3 linked regions of the Homo sapiens genome follow. The protein of the gene in region 3 interacts with the protein of the main gene of each other region in a pairwise test. Each region holds a gene or a part of one and is shown on either strand. Other genes may lie near its edges.

Region 1 (8,215 bases), on a different chromosome or scaffold from region 3:
ATTTACAAGAAAATAAGATAATATTTGATAAAGCCCATTAAAAAGTGGGAAAAGGACATGAACAGACACTTTTCAAAAGAAGACATACATGTGGCCAACAAGCATATGAAAAAAGTTCAATATCACTGATCATTAGAGAAATGCAAATCAAAACCACAATGAGATAACATCTCATACCAGTCAGAATGGCTACTATTAAAAAGTCAAAAAATAACAGGTGCTGGAGATATTGCAGAGAAAGAAGAACACTTTTACACTGTTGTGAGTGTAAATTAGTTCAACCATTGTGGAAAGTAGTGTGGCGATTCCTCAAAGAGCTAAAAGCAGAATGACCATTCAACCCAGCAATCCCATCACTGGGTATATAACCAAAGGAATATAAATCATTCTATCATAAAGACACATGCACATGTATGCTCACTGAAGCACTATTAATAATAGCCAAGACATGAAATCAACCTAAATGTCCATCAGTGGTAGACTGGATAAAGAAAATGTAATACATATACACCATGGAATACCATGCAGCCACATAAGAACAAGATTACGTCCTTTGCAGAAACATGGATGGAGCTGGAGGCTGTCATCCTTAGCAAACTAATACAGGAAGAGAAAACCAAATAGCGCATGTACTCACTTATAAGAAGGAGGTAAATGATGATAACACACAGACACAAACATGGGAACAATAGACACTGGGGCCTACTCTAGGGTGGAGGTTGGGAGGAGGGAAGAGAATCAGAAAAAATGACTATTGAGTAATAGGCTTAGTACCTGGGTGATGAATTAATAAGTATAACAAACCCCTGTGGCACAAGTTTACCTGTTTACAAACCTACATATATACTCCAAACCCAAAATAAAAGTTAAAAAAAAACCCAAAAGAATTTTCTGAATGGTTAAAAAAAGTAACATACGCACAACGTAAAACTTACCATTTTAACCATTTTCATACAGTTTAGTGGCATTATGTACGTGTACATCGTTGTGGAACCATCACTACCATCCATCTCTAGAACTTTCTTCCATCTTGCAAAATAGAGTTATGTTGAGTAATTCATATGCAATGCCCAGGCATACAGCTCTGATATGCTAGCTCCTAAGATATCTCTGGCACTTAACTAGCTGTGAGAACTTGGGCAACTCATTTGACCATTTGGTCATCCACAGAATGGGGTTAATATTTACCTCACAGAACTGGCAAAAGGACAAAATAAGATAATATTTGATAAAGCATTTTAAAAACTGGAAAACATTTTATGGTTGCTACTTATAATCATTATTATTATTAACATAGAAAATGTGAAGATCTTTTATAGAAAGCTGAGACCATTTATTGTGATCATTTTATAAATATTGTTATACATTTAGGTTACCATCTATTCAGATTTATCATTACACATATCTTTTACTTTTTTATTGATTGATTATATCTAGAATGGAATACTAGATATAATCTACTAGAATGGAAGATCCATGAAAGCAATGATTTTTTAAAATTATTTTACCCATTGCTCTATTTCAGAGCCGAGAAGAATATAAGGCATATCTATCTCTTGAATAATGAAAGAATAAATTACTTTATGCAAGAGTAAATATGTTATTAGTGCTTTAAAAAATTCATTCATAATGATAGTTTACATATAAGTCTTTAGGTTTTCCCAGTGCAAAATTAATACATGTGAATTCCCAAATGAAATATATTTTAAATATGAGGAAATTTCCCAGACTAGTTCAGAGTTAAAAGGAAGCAAGTTTAGGAGTAAACAGGAATTTTAAAAATATATGCAAGTTTTCAAAATATGTTCTGATTTTAAAGTTTTGGGCTATTATCAGTACAATAAAAGATGAGTTCAATTGGGTTAATATAATATAACCAAGGAAATACTTAGAGTATCATTCTCTTTTCTAAACAAAACAGGTTGTAGTAGACAATACTGTTTATCAATACCTTTTTATTTTATTTTATTTTATTTTATTTTTTGAGACAGAGTCTCGCTCTGTCACCCAGGCTGGAATGCAGTGGTGCGATCTCGGCTCACTGCAACCTCCGCCTTCCAGGTTCAAGTGATTCTCCTGCCCCAGCCTCCAGAGTACCTGGGACTATAGGCGTGTCTCACCATGCCCGGCTAATTTTTGTATTTTTAGTAGAGACGGGGTTTCGCCATGTTGGCCAGGCTGGTCTTGAACTCCTGACCTCAGGTGATCCACCCACTTCAGCCTCTCAAAGTGCTGGGATTACAGGCATGAGCCACCGTGCCCAGCCTTCCCCTACATTCTGAATGGAAAGTTAAAATGACAATTTATATCTGTAAAAATTTTGTAATAAAGTATTTTGATGGGAGATAAAGCCATATGCAATCACATGGTTTTAAAAGTGGAGAGTAGTATGTTACAAACATGATATTGAAGACTTCTAGGTTCCTTTATATCAACCCTGATTCTAATATGAGAAGAAACTAAGCCGCTTCTGAGATACATGGGAATAATCCTTCTGAGCTGTTATCACTGCCTAAGACTTTTTATCTTTTTTAGATTTTGCCTTCCATAAAAATGTCTTCTCCAATAATCTTTCCAGTTGTACTATCTTTTCTTTGAATTGTTACTTCTTTTTGGTCGTTGGTACACTGAGTTCTCTAGGGTGATTTTTTGCACCTAAGGGTAAGAATTCAAAATTGTGATGCAGGTATTTACAGTAGAACTCTGAATCCTTGTCTTTCACATTTTTGGAATAATTACTGGGGCTTTACTAGAGTACCTTGCTAAGGTGTGTGTGGCCTTTTTTTTTTTTTTAATTAAAAAACAACGTAAGTGGGAGTGGAATGGGGTAAGGGAGGTGAATCATTCATCAAATGAAAATTTATTTAAATACCGTTGTCTGTGATAAAGGAATAACCATTTCAGAATAACACTGGAAGAATTAATTTAAATGGATGCACTTCCCAATATTGTTACTGTTTTCTTTGGTATTTCATTAACATTGTGAGTGGGGAGGTGCTGGGGTCCATGGTAAAAAAATAAGTAAGTGAAAGGCAAACAACTTTGCTTTCTAGTGGATTTCCCTTATTACCTAATGAGGGCAGCAGCTTACAAGTTGATTGTGTTCAATTCAACAAATTTGTTTTAGTACCTAAGTGCCTGCTATATGTACAGAGTGAAGAAAGAAATAACCCTACCTTTAAGAGAGTTTACGGTCTGGTTGTGTTGATTCACCTTCTGAGAAAAAATGTTATTTGCTTTCCTCAATTTTTTTCCTATCAAAAGTAAACATAGGTTCAAACATTCAAACCTATGAAGGCCTAAAAGGAAGAATCATCTTCAGTTTGCTGTGACGATTTCACTGAGTTTTATTTTAAAATATTCATTTAAAAATACATACAAACATATAAACCCATCAGGCCAGGTTCTAGTGATCTGAGATATAAGCATGATACAAACTACTTGGCTGCCGTGTATTTTTGTTTTATTTTAATCCAGGTGATCAGGTCTGTATGGGGAAAAAGCCCTGGGGCTTTTTCAAACAGGAAGGGCCCTCCTCCCTCTGAATGCCCGCAGTGCCGCCCTGTGCACTTTACAGAACAAGGAGAAAGTCAGTTTCTTCAAACTGCTTTTCTAAAGAGCGTTTCCATTCGTGGTCCTGGTGATTCCACCATCTTTTCTTCACAACAGTGACGGTTCTGGAATTTCTACACAGCCTGAGGGGCTGACGGGGTAGACCAGGTGACTGGGAAGGGGCAGTGGCACATGACAAAAATTTGAGGAAACGTCCAGTTTCCGTTTCAGGGAATGCGCATAGGGGAAAACGCAAGTCCCCACGCCATCACGGGGCCCTCCACCGCGGCCGGACGACCCCTCTCTCGGGAGTGACTGGGGCAGGGCACCTGGCCTCAGGTTCGAGCGGAGCCTGCACTGAGAGGCAGGAGTTGGATGAACCACTTGTAGGGTCTGCTCCCAGCTACCCAAAGCGAAAGGGTGGGCGAAAAAGCATTTGCAAAAGAATACATTAACCTCACAAGGAACGACCCCCACCACCCATCCTCCAGCGCCCAAGGTTTCCCACGAAGAGGTCGCCGTCGCCCTTCTCCAAGTTGGGTAGAACCTATAAGGCATCACCAACTGCATCTCAAACCAACCAAGCAAGTGACGCTCCAAAACCTCCCTAAATACCCTCTCTCCCCAGCATTCCGAACGCAACATCAAGGGCGAAAAGAGGCTGCACAAATCACGTAGAAAATTAGACCGCCTCTTTCCATGGCGATAATCGAATTAGCCTCAAATTAAACGTGAAATTGGCCCTCTCCGGCTGTGGAGACAAAGCCCCTATTGTCCTGCTCGGGTAGCGGCAGCAGCAGTGCCCACCCCGCCCCGGCCAGCCTGGTCGGTCCCCGCCGCTGGGAGGATGAGGTCCGGGCTGGACCCGGGAAGAGCCTCAGCTGGAGAGGACGTGGACGCGCCCGAGGCTCGGCTCCCTGGGCGGCTGCGGGGCTCCGGGCAGGAGGAGAGGGCGGGCGAAGCAGAGGGAGCGGGCGGGAGTGGGGAGGGAGGAGTGCGGAGGGCGGAGGGCGTGCGGGAGGGATCCCGGGAGTGCGCTTGTGTGTGTGTGCGCGCGCGCCCGCCCCGCGCGCTCCTCTCCCCGCCCCTCGCCCCCTCCCTGCGAGCGCCCTCCTCTCCTCCTCCCCCCGCCCCCCGCGCTCCCGCCCAGCCCCCGGAATCAGTGCCGCTGTTGCCGTGCAGGCTGCGGATTCCTCCAGTCCCTCCCTCGGCCGCCTCTCCTCCCGGAGCGAGCGCGCAGCCCTGCGCAGCAGCGCCCACTGGTCCCGTCCTGTGAGCCCCGGCCCCAGCCGCGGACAGACCCGCGGAGTCGCCTCCCGGCCCACCCGCCCGGCCGCCGAGGAGCGGGAGGAGGACGGGACCCCGGCGCCCCCACCCCATCCCCGGGAGGTAGGTAGGGGGCCCGAGGCAGGGAGATGCCAACTCACTGGGGCTGCCTCCCGGGTGGGCTCCGCGGCGGCGGACGGGCGGGAGGAGGGGCGCGGGCCCAGGGCCGGAGGACGCCGCTGCCCGCCTGCCCTGCGCCCGGGGAGCCGCGTGGGGGCAGGGAGGCTGCAAAGCCCGGGCGGGGGCGGCGCGGGGAGCCCGGGTCGCGGGTGCTCATTGGTACTCGGATGATGCGGGACGAGGGGCGGCAGGCTCTGCGGTGAGGCGGCAGCAGACCCGCCGTGCGCACCGCTGCCGTCCGGCCCCAGCCCCGGCGCGGCGCGGCGATTCCTCCTCCCTGCCTCCGCCGGCGCCTCCCTGCAGCCGGGCGCGGCGGCCCCTGACGCGGAGGCCCCTGGCGCGGAGGTGGGTGCGGAGCGGACAGCGGACAGCCGGAGGGTCTATTTTCAGGTGCCCTCTCTGTGGCCCCGCGGGTGGGGAGCGGGGGCGGCGGTGACAGGGCCGGGCTCTGCGCGTAGCGGTGCAGGGGATGCGGCCAGGCGTGGTCCCGGCTGCGCCGCGCTGCAGCTGAGCCGGAGGCGGCGGCCCCGCGCCCCCACCTCCGCCCCATCCCTGCGCTTGCTACCCTCGTGCGCCCGCCCCCCCCCCGCCCTTTCTGCCGTCCCCACTCTCCCAGGGCTGGGCGTGAGCCGCCTCCGGGCGCCGAGCCGCCGCTGCGCCCGCCCTTCAGCTCCTGCCACCCTCTCTTCAACAGGTTTGTCTCAGCGCAGGGACCCTCCGGGCCTGCTTTGGGTAGGTGGGCTGGCTCGTCATCACCCCCCACACCACGCCCACGGCCCTCTTTTAGGGGGCGCCTTCTCTTTGTTTTTGTGATAGGAAAGGTGCCAACTGCTGCCATCAGATGAGGAGGGGGTGGGGATCAGAACGCAAACCTCTGTCCATTATTTTTCCAATCGAAAGCCAGGCCAGATAGTAAGTGAGGACAGGGTGCGTGTGGGGGTGCTTCGGCGGAGCAGAAAATTGAATTCGGTGGGGTTTATTTGGGCGGGGATGTGCTTTTTTGGCAAGATGGATGGCTCACGGTGCCCTCGCCGTGATGCAGCACAATGCAGCAGTATCGCAGCTTCCTTGGTTCTCGCTGGCGGGGCTTGGCACGGCCGCTCGGCGCCTGCGGCCCCCGCCCGGCCCCACCCAGGCCCGGGGCTGCCCTTGGCCGAGGCCTGGAGCTGCTGCTACCTTGTCCTGCAGCTTCTGCTGGATGTGGCGTCAGGAGGACCAGGTCAGCTAGGTGTGAGCAGGGGAGAGTCTTTTCTTTTGGGATGATCCCTCCTGCACCTCTTCTTGGGCTGCGCTCTGCCGGAGGGGCGCCCTGCATCACCAGTGCAGGCAGAGGGGAGCCGGCCTGTGGTTGCGGATCGGAATCTGATCTGCGACCAGGGGACCTGAGCCATAGGGAGGGGCTGCAGGAAGGACTGGGCCCAGTGGTGTGCGGAGGCAATGTTGCAGTGTGGGGAGTCGCAGCGTTTTTCTGTGGATCGTCCATAATCTGTAACCACAACCCAGCTATGCATTAATTTTTTCTACGTGAAAAGTTGGTGTTTATTAATTGGACCTTCACAACTGTGACATTACAGTACCTCGTCTGTCTTTGGTTAATACCAAGTATGCATTTTTTCTGTAGGAAACCATTTTTAAATGAAATGATTAATGCATTTTGGGTTTTATGTCACTAAGACATTTATAAGTATATTAAAATTCAGTAGGTTGTTTTAAAAGGAATTTATATGTTTTTTAATGGATAGTAAATGATTCCTTTAGCTTGTATTTTGTTTTCATCGTTTGCTTTTTCTAAGTCAAGTACAGTTGCATTATTTGGATGCTTTATTAAGGATTATTAGGTGTATGAGTGTCATGATGGGGGCTAAATTGGTATTCAGATTTCTATTGATTGAGGTAGCCAAGTTAAGTGTCCGGGCGTAATTAATGGGATTATGACAGTAACACTGCGTTTGTGTTTGTTTATATGTATTTTTTGTATACATATTTTTCACAGCTGTGACTGGGGAGAGGGTGGAGAAGGGCAGACCACCAAGGCCTCTTGACTGGCATCTAGTCAGAAGGAGATGGTTCCCAGTGTTCTCATGTTTAGTCTCGGCCAGGACACAGGGAATTTCCCTTCTAAATGCCATCTCTATAATTCATTATTCAGTGTGGGATGGCAAATGGGATATATTTCAAATGTCAACCCAGGCTTTCCTAAAATGTTTAGGTGAAAAAGGAAATTTCAATATGCTAGTTGGAAGGGAAGGTCAGTGTTTACAAGCCAAGGGCGTGCCTGCTTGTATTTTTAAATATTTCTAATGAATCCAAGTTAGTTGCTTTTGATTTCATGTGGCTCTGCAGAATAGAACTGCATGTACATTGTGTGGTGTATGTGCGTTATTTTGAGTTTCTCTAATAGCCATTAAAATATGAGACTTTTTGTGCTGGTTGTGTAAAATCGTGTTGCGTACAGATTTTTATGAATGTTGTTCCCATGGATCATCCAAACGTTTTGGATTTACTTTGTTGTAAGAAATATCCTGTGTTGATGTCACAGGAGGTTTAGCTGTTCTGACTTACACAGCAGGTGCAGAATTCTGTTGGGTTAAGCTCTTTGTAACTCTGTCATTACTGGAGTGACCAAAACCTTCATCTGAGAGGAGAAGTATTGGGCAGTGAAGGAACTGCTGTCACTAGGTCGTCTCCCACAGTTGAGGTTTTCTGTGAAGAACTTCTCTTGGGCAAGACTAGTAACAACTATCTGTGATGTTGCAGAGCAAATGAGAAGACCTCCCTCTACTTGTGACACATCCTGAGCAGAGGCTTGGCATTGGCAGAGTTTCCTGGAAGGGTTTGTAGAGTGGTTGCTTTGTCTTGATGTTTGAATGTATGACTTTACATGTGGAAGTACTATTTTGACGTGGAAGGATTTTACTACTGCTAACATAGACATGATTAGTGGAAATCATTCAGTGTGGATTTTGTCGAAATAATTTTAAGCTTTTCTTTTTAATAGCATATTCTTATAGAACATTTTAAAGCCTAATTTTTTTTACGTGCAATGACATGATGCTCCTTTAATTATGTTGCATCGTAACTAGTATCTTCATTATAATTGGGCTTTATTTAATGGCAGCCGTAGTTTCTTTCACTACATTATTGGAAATGCAAACCATTCTTCCAGAAGGAAGGGGCTAACTACCCCTGTTAGAAGAGTGAACTTTGTAGGTCTGTG
Region 2 (7,500 bases), on a different chromosome or scaffold from region 3:
CTAAAAGCCCAGGAAGAAACAACAAAAAATAGGTAAATTGGAGTTCATAAAAAATGTGAAACTTTTATATCAAAGGACATTTTCAAGAAAGTGAAAGACAACCTACAGAATGGGAGAAAATATTTGTAAATCCTATGTCTGATAACATCCAGAATATGTAAAGAACACCTACAACTCGGCCGGGTGCGGTGGCTCACGCCTGTAATCCCAGCACTTTGGGAGGCCGACGTGGGCGGATCACCTAAGGTCGGGAGTTTGAGACCAGGCTGACCAACATGGAGAAACCCTGTCTCTACTAAAAATATAAAATTAGCCAGGCGTGGTGGCGTATTCCCGTAATCCCAGCTACTCGGGAGGCTGAGGCATAAGAATCACTTGAACCCAGGAGGCGGAGGTTGCGGTGAGCCGAGATCTCGCCATTGCACTCCAGCCTGGGCAACAAGAGCAAAACTCCGTCTCAAAAAACAAACAAAAAACCTACAACTCAACAACAAATAGACAAACAACCCAATTAAATGGTCAACAAAGGACTTGAATAGACATTTCTCCAAGGAAGGTATACAAATGGCCAGTAAGCACATGAAAAGATGCTCAAAGTCATTAGTCCTTAGGGAAATGCAAATCAAAACCACAATGAGATACCACTTCGCACTTGCTAGGATGGCTATAATTTAGAGGGAAAAAAAAGAAACATAACAAATGTGCGTGAGAATGTAGAGAAGTTGGAACCTGTGTACATTGTTGGTGAAAATGTGAAATGGTGTAGACGCTGTGGAAAACAGTTTGGCTGTTCCTCAGAAAGCTAAACATAGAATGACCATAGAATTGTAATACCGACAATTCCACTCCAAGGTGTATAACCAAAATTATTGAACACAGGGACTGAAACAGATACTTGTACACCAATAATCATTGCAATATTATTCACAATAGTCAAACAACAGATGAGTGGATAAACAATGCCTGGTACCCTTCCTTCCTTCCTTCCTTCCTTCCTTCCTTCCTTCCTTCCTTCCTTCCTTCCTTCCTTCCTTTCTTTTTCTTTCTCTCTTTCTTCTTTCTTTTCTTTCTGTCAGTCTTGCTCTTGTTGCCCAGGCTTGAGTGCAATGACACAATCTCAGCTCACCGCCACCTCTGCCTCCTGGGTTCAAGTGATTCTCCTGCCTCAGCCTCCCGAGTAGCTGGGACTACAGGTGCACACCACCATGCCCAGCTAATTTTTGTGTTTTTAGTAGAGATGGGGTTTCCCCACGTTGGCCAGGCGGTATACACATTTTTCTATTATTCGGCCATAAAAAGGAATGAAGTTCTGATGCATACTACAACATGGATGAAACTCAGCAACAAGGTTTTTGAGGAAAAAAAGCTTAGTGAAAAGGCCACATCTTGTAGGATTCCACTTATATGAAATACATGCAATAGACAAATTCATGGAGACAGAAAGTAGATTAGAGGCTACCAGGAGTGGAAGGAGGGGAGAATGGGGATTTATTATCCAATGAGTGCAGTGTTTCTATTTGTTTTTGTTTTTGTTTGAGACAGGGTCTCGCTCTGTCATCCAGGCTGGAGTGCAGTGCCACGATCTCAGCTCACTGCAGCCTCCGCCTCCTGGGTTCAAGCAATTCTCCTGCCTCAGCCTCTGAGTAGCTGGGATTACAGGTGTACACCACCTGGCAAATTTTTGTAGAGATGGGGTTTCGCCATGTTGGCCAGGCTGGTCTCAAACTTTTGACCTCAGGTGATCTGCATGCCTCTGCCTCCCAAAGTGCTGGGATTACAGGCGTGATCTATGGCCCCTGACCCAAGTGTTTCTATTTGGGATGATGAAAACGTTTTGAAAATAAATAGTTGTAATGGTTGCACAGCACTCTAAAGGTAATTTATGCCACTGAATTGTACACTTAAAATGGTGAAAATAGAAAATTTCATGTTATACAGATTTTGCTACCCAAAAAACAAAACAAAAAATCCAAAACCTTTATGTTATTATGAAGAAGCAGTTTTCCAAAGGAATAGGGATGCTGGTAGCAGAAGGGAAAGAAATCTCATTAAATAAAAACAAAAGCAATGACCTCTTCAGGAGGTGGCTCAGCTAGTTTAGCTTTACCTTAGCACCATGATGGTTCATTTTATTCAGAAATAGAAACATGGGGCGTTGGGGAGAAGAGGAGATGTGTACCTGCCTCACCTGCCTCCCTGCCCAGAATGCCGACTCCGACTCTTGCTTTCCACTAAGGCTGGGGATTAAATGAAAAGTGAGAATCTGGAAACCCCCAGAGATGATGTTTGTCGTTGGAGCTGATTTTATCTCATTTTAGTAGCATGACCTCCTCCTCAAACTCAGGATGCAATTATGGTCAATCTCATTAGTGTGCAGTAATTGCTCAGCCCCAATACCAGATTAGCAGGAAGTTCTGTTATTTTCCTTTTGAGGATGGGCTCCTACTGAACTGTCCTGGAATCTACCACCATTCAGGTTACAAAAGACCCAGGGAACTAGGCCAGTCCAGCTCCCAACCCCAAGCAGGGAGCAACTTGCTCAGTCCACGTTGTGATAGCTCCTCGCTGCCACAAGGTGGTGATGTTGCATCACACACGCGCATGATGGGCGCGCAGGCGCCAATGCTCCCAGGACCTGCTGTTCCATTCCTAAATGAAAGTTGTTCCCAGGATCTGGACTCACAAGACAAGGCAGCCTATTCCCTGCTGGGGAGCTCAGGGGCAAGAGGGCATCTCGGAGGGAGGGCACATTCTCACCTCTGAAGACAAGGAGAACATCATCAGCACATAGACCAATCCCAGCAGTGCACCTTAGGATGGGGAGGGCCACTGTGAGTTACAGCAAAATGAACGAATGAATGAACCAATAAATGTCTGAGAGGGAAAGTCCCAACGACCCTCAGGAGGTACAATCAAGAGTTGCAGTTATTTTCGTTAGGAACGTTCTAAACACAGGGGAAACCTTCCTTCCTTCTGCTCTATTGTTGGAGTGGGGCCATCCCGGGACACCAGAAATCAAGGAATTGAGTTTGGAGAAGGGACTTGGGGAGGTCACAGTGGCAGGTGACTGCCAAATGAGGTGGCAGAAGCCAGCAAGCGCTGGAAAAAGTCGGCCCAAACTGTTCACCAGCACCGCCCCCCATAACTCCCCACCGGCTCTGGTTTCAAGACTTTCCGTTTTCTAGGTATTTCCTTGGCCTTAAACCATTTTCCTTTAAACGAACTTTTTCTGTGAAGCCATCCGGTTTCCCCCGATAGTGGCATCTCACAAAGGACAATCCAGTATCCCAACAGCGTGTTGCGTTCCGCGGGACGCAGATTTCCTTCACAGGCACCCCCCGGGTTGCGTTTTTATAGCCACACCCACCCGCCCCCCTATCTCCTGGGCACTGCTAATGAGTCCTGCATTTCTCTCCTTTGGTCTTTGGATAAATGAACCATCCGTGCGTGACCTTTGCGAGGGCATCTTGCATAATACCAGTACACCAGCGGCGCCGTCGGTGAGTGACCTTTGGGACTGGTTTCTCTCACCAGCGTAACTCCCCGGGAGATCCGAGCAAGCTGATGAGTGTATCAGTGGCTCATTCTTTCTGTTGCACCACGGACCCTCATTCTGTAACCGGGATACCAGCCAGAGATGGGGAGCGGGAGGCGCAGGGCAGGGGCGTCCCTCCTCTCAGCACAGCCTCCCCGCGCTGGATTTCTATCAATCCAGTTTCCACCTGCCTGGAAGTCAGCAGGGTCCTCCCCAGTCCCAGATCGCCGGGCGAGGCCCCAGATGGACCTCAGGGGCGGGGAGTGGGCGGAGCTTAGGGGCCGAGGCGAGGTGTGGGTGGGGCGGGACGCCGCTGTGGAGGCGGGGCCTGGGCGCGGACGGGCGCGGAGCGAGGCACCGCACCGCCGGGGCGGGGAGTGGGCGGGGCTCGGGGGCGGGGCGGGGTGTGGGCGGGGCTCACGGGCGGGGCGGGTGAGTGGGCGGGGCCTCGGCGTGGTAGGCGCGCTGCGTAAAGAGGCCTGCAGTCCCGCGGCGCGGGGCAGGTTCCGGGCTGCTTAGGTTGGCACCGGTCCGTGGTCCCCGGGGGCGCAGTCGCAGCGCTCCCGCCCTCCAGGCGTCAGCGAGTGCGCGGTCCAGTGCGGCCGGAACCTGGCGCAACTCCTAGAGCGGTCCTTGGGGAGACGCGGGTCCCAGTCCTGCGGCTCCTACTGGGGAGTGCGCTGGTCGGAAGGTGAGTGATCCCCTGTCGGGGACCGGGGGACTTGGGAAGGACAGTTCCCGGACTGGACGGCCAGAACGCTCTCAGGGATTTCAGCTGGCCGGCCATATGGCCCTGTGGGTCGTCGCGCCCGGGCCAGGGACCATTCTGTACATAGGATCGTGCTTGGCTCTCACGGAACGCGCCCACACGCAGGGTCCCGGTGTCGAATCGTCTGGTGGAATCTGCCCTCAACCCTATGGAGCGGGTGCTGGTATCATAGTCATATTACAAGTAGGAATCAGCGGGCCCAAGGTCAGTCTGTAAAGGGGGTACCGGGGTTTAGGCCCGTGCGCTGCCCAGCGCTGCCCTGAAGGCGCGGCTGAACCACTGGTTTGCGCTGCCTTTGTCAAGGACATTGTGGCACTGTGGAAAAAATGAAAAATCAGCTTCTCTAACCTATAATCTCTCTGGGAAAAAAAAAAATCAGCTTTTTTTTTTTTCCCCGAGACGGAGTCTCACTCTGTCGCCCAGGCTGGAGTGCAGTGGCACGATTTCGGCTCACTGCAACCTCCGCCTCCCGGGTTCAAGCAATTCTCCTGCCTCAGCCTCCCGAGTACCTGGGATTATAGGGGCGTGCCACCACGCCTGGCTAATTTTTTGTATGTTTAGTAGAGACGGGTTTCATGTTGGTCAGGCTGGTCTCAAACTCCTGACCTCGTGATCCGCCCGCCTGGGCCTCCCAAAGTGCTGGGATTGCAGGCGTGAGCCACTGCTCCCGGCCCTCTTTTTCTTTTTTCTTTTTTTTTTAGAAGAGTCTCACTCTGTTGCCCAGGCTGGAGTGCAGTGGGGCAATCTCAGCTCACTGCAACCTCTGCCTTCCAGGTTCAAGCGATTCTCCCCCCTCAGCCCCTTGAGTAGCTGGGATTACAGGCGCCTGCCACCATGCCCGGCTAATTTTTGTATTTTTAGTACAGGTGGGAGTTTCACCATATTGGCCAGGCTGGTCTTGAACTCATTCTTCTTCCTTTCTTTTTCTTTTTTTTTTTTTTTTGAGATGGAGTTTCACTCTTATTGCCCAAGCTGGAGTGCAATGGCACAATCTCAGCTCACTGCAACCTCTGCCTCCCGGGTTCAAGCTATTCTCCTGCCTCAGTCTCCCGAGTAGCTGGGATTACAGGTGCGTGCCACTACACCCAGCTAATTTTTGGTATTTTTAGTAGAAATGGAGTTTCACCATATTAGTCAGGCTGGTCTCAAACTCCTGACCTCAGGTGATCCGCCTGCCTCGGCCTCCCAGAGTGCTGGGATTAATGAACCACTGCGCCCGGCCAAAAATCAGCTTCTTTAACCTTTAATCTCTGAAAAAATAAATCAGTTTAACCTTTAATCTCCGAAGATCACAGCCAAAGAAATACATGAAAAGGAACAAGTATTAAATAATATATACTTCTAGCTGTGCTGTTTATAGTTTTGGGAAAAAAATGGAAATAACCTAAGGTCCCAGAAATAGGAAAATGGGCACAAAAGGGTATGCAGGCAATGGTTTAGCTGCCGCATGAATACACACTGAATACACTGTGAGATGTTGTCTGTTAGAATGCCCAGCACGGGGACTGTCCACATGGAAAGAGGCACAGGAAAAAAAGTGAAAACATTATAAAATAACTTCTTAAAATTAAATAATGTACACGTCAAAAATATCAGAGCCCACTTGACCTGGTATATACAGTTTAATAACCACATGGCTCTTTTTTCCTGTAGGCCTGGGTAGGTGCATAGTTTCTAAAAAGGGAGAGAACTGTCACTGCTGTGGATGGGGTGCCAAGGGAAGTGCCTGGGGTCAAGTGAACAGTGACACAACTGCAAGTCAAGAGCCTGTGTTGGAGTCTTTCCCCACTATTTCAAATAGTATAGAAAATAGAGCTGAGTCACTCAAATAGAGCTGAGTTAGTCACTCAGCTCTTGGACCTCAGATTCTTATTCTTAACCGCTAGGGGGATGGAGACAGAAGTCACAAACTCACATGCCACCAGCCATATGATGTAAACATGTAAACTGGGCCAAGGAATACAAAAGGGAGTGGTGAGCTGGGGACACTGAAGAATGGATGCCCTGTCTAGAGGAGTGAAAATGAAGCATTTCATACAAACAACATGATTTCGGGCAATCACTTTGGGAATCAGGATAAGGTGTTCCCCCAGTCTGCAGAAACACTGGCAACATTTACAAAGGTAAATCATTTCATATCACTCTATTTTCTTTTTCTTTTTTGAGACAGAGTCTTGCTCTGTTGCCCAGGCTGGAGTGCAATGGCACAATCTTGACTCACTGCAACCTCCACCTCCCAGGTTCAAGTGATTCTCCTGCCTCAGCCTCCCAAGTAGCTGGGACTACAGGCACATGCCACCATACCCGGATAATTTTTGTATTTTTTAGTAGAGATGGTGTTTTGCCACATTGACCAGGCTGGTTTCAAACTCCTGACCTCAGGTGATCCCCCCACCTCGGCCCCCCAAAATGCTGGGATTACAGGTGTGAGCCACCACAACTGGCGATCATTCCATATTACTCTCCAGCTTAAGAGGCTCCAAGGGCTTTCTGTCAGGCTTAGAATAAAATCCTCACCCCTACCCTAGGAGGGGTCAGGTCAGACCCCTCCCACCTCCCTGACTGCATCTACCACCATCCACTCTTTTTTTTTTTGAACCACAGTTCAGCCAAACAGGCTTTCTTTTTTTTCTTTTACTTTCTCTTTTTTCTTGAAACAGAGCCTAACTCTGTCACCCAGTCTGGAGTGGAGCAATCCTCTAATCTCAGCCCCCTGAGTAGCTGGGATTACAGGCATGCACCACCACACCTGGCTAATTTTTAAAAATCTTTGGTAGAGATGGGATCTCACTATGTTGCCCGGGCTGGTCTCAAATTCCTAGGCTCAAGTGATCTCCTGCCTCAGCCTCTCAAAGTGCTGGGCCTTCTGCTTCCCTGGGCTTTGCCAGGCCTCCCTATGCATTGTGATAGCCAAAGTTTGCTTTCTACAAAGTCACCTCCAGGCAGTGACTGTCCACCAGGGCACTGTAGAGCCTCCCAGCTAATGATGAAGTCACTCACTCTCCTCTCTTTTTCCTTTAAGATAATCCCTTTCCAGACCCGCCATTTTGGCTCACCCTGTAAGTTACAGCCCCACTTCTCACTGCCAAGTGTGGGTGTCACTGCTGGCTCAGGGAGCATGGATCCTGTAAACTTGCCTCATCGGGAGGCTTTGAGGAGTGACCCCCAGGAACTAGACAAGTAACTTGTTCTTCAC
Region 3 (7,385 bases):
GTTTTTTCTTAAAAATGTATAAAGAACTCTCACCTCATAATAAGTCATGAAAATTGACTGTTTTTCTTATCATTACATATTAGTATGATGCAATGCAGCATAACACATAAATAAACCACCTTTTAAAAACTTTAGCCTACTAAGATGGATTATAAAACATTAAGTGAAAATGAAATAAGAAATCTCCAAGTCAGGTAACTCTAAATGTTGGGTCATAAACAAGTTATATCTCCACTAAATTAATAAATATTCTGACCTCAGGACATTTTCCACAGGCCTGAGACACCTCAGAAGTCCAAACTCAATCACTAAACACACCCCCAATATACTTTAGCCATATGACTCTTAAGGAAACATAAAATCATTCCTACATCCCTATTTGCTCATTTTTCCCCCTGTGCAATCAATGATTTCTAAAAAGTAAAGACTTCATTGCTTTACTGTCTTTTGTAAAAACAAACAAACAAAAAACAACAAACAAACAAAAAACACCTCGTGGTAGTTCCCTTAGAGTCCTTCCTGGAAGCCAATTCAAGGAAGCCTGGACGGAGGCGTGACACTTGGACTGGGAAGGTGGTGTAATCTGTTGCGAATCACAGCAGGTTCTGAAGTGCTGGAGAACCCACGTGTGCAGGGGCTGGAGAACTTTTCCACCGTCTCCCAGAGGAAATGCCTCATTTTAAAATAGGGGGCTGGCTGGAGCAAGGGGTGGGGGTGAAGGGTGGGCGGTAAAAAAAGGCAGAGGCGAAGCTTTCAAACCGTTCACGCATGTCTACCTGTGCTTATTTTCCCTCTATTTCGCCTCCGATCAACTTTATTATTATTATTATTATTATTTTCCTTCTATAGGAGGACTTAAGCAACCAGGATGCTGAACATCTCATAGGCTCAGGCTGGAACAAAGAAAATCGAGTTCCTAATACTGTATCTCACCCGTTGGAGGGATCACGTGTCCTGCTTTCGCTGGAATGCACTCTTCTCGCCCACGCTATAAAAATCTCTATTGTGCTTAGAAATTTCGCCTAGGTTAGAATATGCTCACAAAAAATTGCTTTTCATCCACCAGGAGAGCCACATTTCGACATATACAGATACAAATCTATTTACCTGCTGACCCAGTTACCACTGCAGGTAAATTCGATGTGTTGAAAGAGTATTGGGAAAGTAATTGAAAAGAGCAGGGGGAGGACCCCTGTGTCTTACCGATCCCCACCCCCATCGCTTTTTTTTTTTTTTTTTTTTTTGTAATTCCTTTTGAAGGAGAACTTCGAAAGGAACGTGGGAGTCGCAGATGGTTCCTTTCTGAAGCCGATTCCTGGGAGTTGTGAAAGTGACCCCGTCTCTTCTCTGCCTCGAGCTGTGCCCTCTCGCCCAACCCGCTCGCTTTATGACTTGATGGGGAAGAGACAGCCAGAGAAGAGCCGGAGTAGAGGGCGGAGGCGGGTCCTTTATTCAGCCCTGATGGCCGAGAAGTAGTGTAAGGAAGCAATCTTTCAGCCATCTCCGTTATTATGAAGTCACACTATTTTAAAAGGCAATCTATACAGTCCCCCAACCCCCGCCCCCATTCTTGACTCTGCAAACAGTAAGATTAGAGACCACTGGTAGCCAATCTAATAGTCCACGAGCCAGGGTGCCATGATTACCTTAATGCTAATGTGCTTCCCTCCCTCTTTCCACGTCGAATCCGAAACACGTCCTGCATCCTTAATAACTCGGAGAGGAGGACGCAAGATCCTCAAGGGGACCCAGCGCTGGATTGGGAATAGGCAGGTTCACCAGCTTCTCGTGCCACACAAAGGAGATGTGTGGGCAGGAGTTGTCTAGCTGACAGGGAGGGAGGCAAGGTTCTCCCTGACTCCCAGGGAACACGCTCCCCCACTTCTTTCCGTCCTCCAGTCTTTCATGTTCCTTCGTCCCCTCCATCCCCCCAAACCCCACCCTTTCCCTTCAATCCCAATCACATAAAAATCTTCTAATTGTATTTTTTCAAACAGACATCGAGACATTGATACAACACCTTCCAAGATAAAGAGACAAGTGCGTCCTGCCACAAGTGTGTGTGAGTGTGTGTGTGTGTGTGTCACGATCAAACACGCGCTTCATCCCTCAGACACCTCTGGGAAAAAAGCTGACTGGAGATACCCAAGATAATAACGAGGAGCTAAACCTAATTTCAGCGGAACCAATGGTCCCAGCACCAGCGCCCAACATTTACCTTTCCTTTTCGCAGTATGTAACCCTTTAAGGTCTCTTGCCAGCTCAAGCTACTCGGTGCTCCCATGCACCCGCCCAGTTAGCACCCCATTTCCAAATGCTCTGCAACCTACCACATCTTCGCCGCCTCCCTCGGCCACCGCACAAGCAGCTCCCCGCGAGCGCCGAAGCCTCCCGCCCTGCCACCCCCGCCCCCGGCCGGCCTCTGGGGTCCCACACCTCGCGCGCCTACGGTCGCCGCGGCCGGGCCCCCGCAGCACCCTCCGCCACGGAGCGAGCGTGCCTTACTCACATCGCCGGCGGGAGAAACTGCCCATGAGGTTTCGGAGAGCGTAGTCGTGCAGCTGCCAAGGGTTATTCCTTAAGTGTTCAGGGGTCCGCAGTGGAGTGGGCGCCAGGGTCTTCGGAGGAGAAGAGGAGGGAAGGAGTAGAAGGTAGGAAGAACAGGAGATAGAGGGGAATCCAGGAAGGTGCCACGTTAGACCATGATGCCAGTGCCCTTCAGGTGGACGGCTGGAGAGGTTCCCGCGGGAAGCGGCTGAGGGGAAGCCCGAAGCGCCGGCGGGGGAGGCAGGAGCGCGTCCACTCCCCAGCCTCAGCCTGCCCAGCGCGCCGCGCTAGCGACCGCAGCAGCAGCGGCGGCGGCGGCGGCGGTGGCGGAGGCGCAGCTCCCTCCCCGCCCCCAGAAGGCTCCACAGACAATAAATCCTGGGCGGAGAAGAGACAAGCAGGAAAGGCGAATCCTGCACCCAACTCCGTAACAACCCCTGCCCGTTGCCGCGCCTGTGCAGGGCGAGGATCCCCAGGGGCCAGGGCGCAGCGGGCGTCTCGGAGGGGCTGAGCGCTCCGCAACTGCAGGAGGCGGTGGCGGTGGCCCGAGTGGGCGGCTGCAGGTCCCGCCGGCGAGAACCCGCTGCACTGGGGCTGGGTGTCCGTGGCTTCAAGCCCGGTGTTCACCCGGAGTAGGGTCCTCCTCGGTGCAGTGGCTCGGCGCACAGGTGCCAGGATTGGCAGGCGAGGAGGCGCCGCTCATGGCTCTTGGCTGTGTCTCACCGCTCTCCCCGCCCCCTCTCTTTTTTCCCACCCCCTTTTCCGACGACACCAGCTGCAGCTGCTTCAAAGTGTGAAAAATGTCAAGGAGATTTTCCAATGATAGGAGGGGGTAACCATGTTCACAACCCTCGGTCTCTTTTTGAGATCCTCGCCTGTCCCTCTGACCTCTACTCCGGCTCCCCCAAATTATGAGAAGAAAAATCCCAGTCCTGCACAGGATTGAAACGCTAGCCTTCTCCCGGCTCCGTCACGATAGGCTGCTTTTCGAGAACGGGACGAGAGGCCGAGCTCTCTGGGTTCCTCTCGCCTCCGTGGTGTTCGAGGCAGGTGGCACGAATCTCAGCGCGGGGCGGAGCGCGGCTGCCGGCTCCTCCCGCTCGCGGGCCAGCCCCGGGCGCTCGGGCAGCGCGGCGCGGCTTTCTGCAGCGCGGCCGCCTGAGCGGCAGAAGCGGCTCCCGGCCTGTGCGCCTGCCTGAGCGCCCCTGCACCCGCACTAGCTCAGTGACGCTGAGCTCGTGGCTCCTCAGGCTGCTGCTCCTGCTATCTCAGCAAAGAGGCGGCCGGGAGCGCCTCCTCGGGGTTTCCTCCCCCGCCCGCCTTGCCTGCTGCAGGTTGTTGGCTGCCAAGGAGAAAAGTCTCCGCTTGTGCGTCAGGTCGCTTCACATCAGTCATGGCAGCGAACCTTGTGCCTGCTCTTAAGTCCTCTCCTCATTCTGGGGTTGCGGCTGCTGCCCTGGGAGTGCACAAAAAGGGAAGGGTTTTCCCAACTTCCCTTCATATATTCACCGCCCCTCCTCCTGCCATGAACATTCTCTCTGACACACACACACACACACACACACACACACACACACACACACACTCTCTCTCTCTCTCTCATATGCTCCCTTACGTAAAGGCACACACACTTTCTTCTTATACGCTTCTCTAAAGTCCCAGAAGCAGCAAGACATATCAATGAAGCTAGTACTATATTTACACTTTTTTTTTTTTTTTTTGAAACGGAGTTTCGCTCTTGTTGACCAGGCTGGAGTACAATGGCGCGATCTCGGCTCACTGCAACCTCTTCCTCCCCGGTTCAAGCGATCTTCCTGCCTCAGCCTCCCGAGTAGCTGGGATTACAGGCGCGTGCCACCACGCCCGGATGATTTTTTTTGTATTTTTAGTAGAGACGGGGGTTTCACCATGTTGCCCAGGCTGGTCTCGAATTCCTGACCTCAGGTGATCCACCTGTCTCGGCCTCCCAAAATGCTGGGATTATAGACGTGAGCCACCGTTCCCAGCCTATATTTACACTTTTATTCTCTACACACATCTAATGAATTACATCTTTAAAAAAGGATATATTATGCTGGTATTCTTTTGTGGAATATAGGCTATGTGGTTTTTGTTTCTTCATTACAAGAGAGAAAGAATCTTGTCTTTAGTTCTCTAACCTCGAACACAGTCAAGACTGTGCACAGCATTCAAATGCCACTCTGGGGGTGTGTGTAAGCTCACAGTTTGCCAAAAGAAAACACACCTGATTGTATTCTTAGATTTGGAATGCTAAAGTCTTCAAGGTCAAAAATTATGTTTCCTGGCTGCTAGAAATTGTCTAGGAAGAGACTTGAGAGACTGGCACCTAATGTGCGGAGGACCTAGAGAGGAATTATTGCCCACTTTATCTGGGCCATGAAGGTGGGCTGACTTTTAAGGACAACTTGCCAGTGTTTCATATCATTTGCATATAGAAAGGAAAAGGAGTATATTTTGAAAAGCCAGATCGTTTTTTATATTGTTACAAAACACCAAAAGAAAGGGCTCTGAAAATGGCAAGGAAATGGAATAAAATTGTTAAAAGAATTTTTTTTGAATTGACTACTGTTGTGCTCTGTTTTTTTTTCACCTATAGTGTTGTCCTTTTAAACATTTTGCCACATCTCAATGTCTCTGCTGGATGAAGTGACATGAAATATTTTAGGTGCTGATTAAAAATGTATTGACAAAATAACCTGGCGCAACAATTACACAATTATAGCGGTCCTTTATGGGTTTCCAGTTCTTTTTAATACAGTCAACACAGTACTTTCACATATATTCTTTCATTTAATCCTTTCTTAAATCTAGGTGGTGGATAATCTAATCCACACTTACAGGAAGGGCACAAAGGCTCATCTCATAAGGGTGTCCAGTTGCCCTGCACTTGAGCCCAGAATTTCTTATTTTAACTTCAGGCTTCATTGTTTTGTATCAAAATATTTGACAAAAATTATTCTGTTTAAAAACACAGCCAGTTATGAGTAACTGCAGATCCTTGCATACAGGCAGCATACCTACCAATGAAGTTACCTTCTGTGTGTTAAGTGGAAGTAGTTTCCTACGTGGAAACAAACGTATTCCTTTCCAATGGAGAAAAAGATAATTTTGGAACCCCGAATTAAAAATTGATGGTGCTGATATAACACATTTCAAACTACATGTCCTCCTTTCCCATTTATCTTGTCCTAGAATCTTGATTTTGGACCATAAAAATCCAATGGATAAAATACTTTAAATATGTTCAGATGTCCACCTAATTGTTATGGGTTTTAACAAACAGGATTATAAGGTGTAAAGAGAAGGTATTCTCTTTAGAATAAGCTTTGAATACAACGGCTCCATATTTTTGTAAGATTATGAATCTTGAACAAAATCTGGCCACCTTTACTATTTAAACAATGAGACATTGAAGAGATTTCAGTGGTTTCATAGAATTATGGAACTATTGAAATGCAAATGCAGGTGCTGTCTTTAAACTTCAAGCTGCCCTGTCATCAACCCTCTGGAAATGCAGATGACTGTCTAAAAATTGGAGAAAGATAAATGCTAAATATACTTTGGATGTTGTTCAAGCAGAGGCCCAACACTAAAAACTATCACCATTTTACAAATTAGATCAAGGCAGTTTTAACAGATTTGATGTTCCTATTACATCTATAAATGTTTAGACATTAAGGCTATAAAATTTTGCAAGTTGTTAATCAATTTCTTTGACCCACACTGCTAAAATCTTTGAAATGATAATGCTTCTTAGGATAAGCAAGACTAACCTTATTTGAAAATAAAACTCATGGCGATATTAAACAATAAGATGTCAAATATCTTTGAATATTTCCCTTTGGATGCCTGAAATGCTACACTTGTCGTAAAAGATATCCCCTTTGGCAATTACTCATTAAAATAAAAGTACATATAGACAGGATAACACTTTTAGTTTTTGAGTTGTTAGTATCTTAACAGGATTGGCTTAATTAGATACTGGTAATTAGGGAAATAGAAAACATTACTGAATTTTGATGCATGAAGATGAAGGTCTGAAAACCTCAGAGACAGTAGACCTTAGTAAGACAGGATCAGTATGAGTGGGGTACTGTAAGGGTGGACAGTGATGCTTTGTTGTGGTTAGTTTTTGAAAAACCAGGCTGAGGTTCTGAATAGAAAATGGAGGTAGGTCATTAAGATTTTTCTTCAAATGAATTTGTTAGAGGGCTTTTACTATGAAATTGGCCTCTCAAATTAACAATCTGTTCTAGCTAAAGAAAATGCTTCTTTATTGTGGATTTTAATTCATTTGAATAATTATTTTGTAAACATTAATTTGCCTAAGATGAAAAAATACAGTGACCACTGATATACCCATTATGCCCATTAAGAAAGCATTATGGATATGACTGAAGCCTCCTCTCCCATTCCTCTCTCTGTCCACCCCATTCCCCCACACACAAAAGATAACCTCATTTCTAAATTTTGTATTTATTTGTACATTTATACATTCATACATTTTGTGCACTTTGAGTACTAACAATATTTTTGTATCGCTTAGCATAGGTAACCCTTATATAAATGATATAATACAGTATGCATTCTTTTGCAAATTGCTTTTGATTTTTAAAATATCAACATTATGTAAATAATAATGATTCATATTCATATGTGTCACTCTGGTTGACTGATTTTTGATGCTGCATAATAGTTAATTGTATAAACTCACCACATTCACATTCTGATGACAGTTTTTACTATTATAAGTAATACTGTTGGGAACATGTTTGTTTATATCTCTTTATGAATGTGCATAAAAATTTTTCTAGTTA

The links. The genes of interacting proteins can lie anywhere in the genome.
Region 1: the proteins of LRRC7 (region 3) and SPTBN1 interact in a two-hybrid assay, tested with the Homo sapiens proteins (one study listed by BioGRID).
Region 2: the proteins of LRRC7 (region 3) and NQO2 interact in a two-hybrid assay, tested with the Homo sapiens proteins (2 studies listed by BioGRID).

What each region holds. Positions count from the first base shown.
Region 1 is NC_000002.12:54,451,578-54,459,792, forward strand, and holds the start of SPTBN1 (spectrin beta chain, non-erythrocytic 1), read left to right. Parts: upstream 1-4,749; 5' UTR 4,750-4,941; intron 4,942-5,153; exon of another isoform or gene 5,154-5,388; intron 5,389-5,589; exon of another isoform or gene 5,590-5,730; intron 5,731-5,814; exon of another isoform or gene 5,815-5,910; intron 5,911-6,131; exon of another isoform or gene 6,132-6,226; intron 6,227-6,405; exon of another isoform or gene 6,406-6,600; intron 6,601-7,760; exon of another isoform or gene 7,761-7,831; intron 7,832-8,215. UniProt on the Homo sapiens protein: Fodrin, which seems to be involved in secretion, interacts with calmodulin in a calcium-dependent manner and is thus candidate for the calcium-dependent movement of the cytoskeleton at the membrane.
Region 2 is NC_000006.12:2,995,860-3,003,359, forward strand, and holds the start of NQO2 (ribosyldihydronicotinamide dehydrogenase [quinone]), read left to right. Parts: upstream 1-4,034; 5' UTR 4,035-4,226; exon of another isoform or gene 4,227-4,508; intron 4,509-6,190; exon of another isoform or gene 6,191-6,427; intron 6,428-7,500. UniProt on the Homo sapiens protein: The enzyme apparently serves as a quinone reductase in connection with conjugation reactions of hydroquinones involved in detoxification pathways as well as in biosynthetic processes such as the vitamin K-dependent gamma-carboxylation of glutamate residues in prothrombin synthesis.
Region 3 is NC_000001.11:69,563,766-69,571,150, reverse strand, and holds the start of LRRC7 (leucine-rich repeat-containing protein 7), read right to left. Parts: upstream 3,230-7,385; 5' UTR 2,512-3,229; coding exon 2,510-2,511; intron 2,399-2,509; exon of another isoform or gene 2,336-2,398; coding exon of another isoform or gene 2,331-2,335; intron 1,811-2,330; exon of another isoform or gene 1,706-1,810; coding exon of another isoform or gene 1,647-1,705; intron 1-1,646.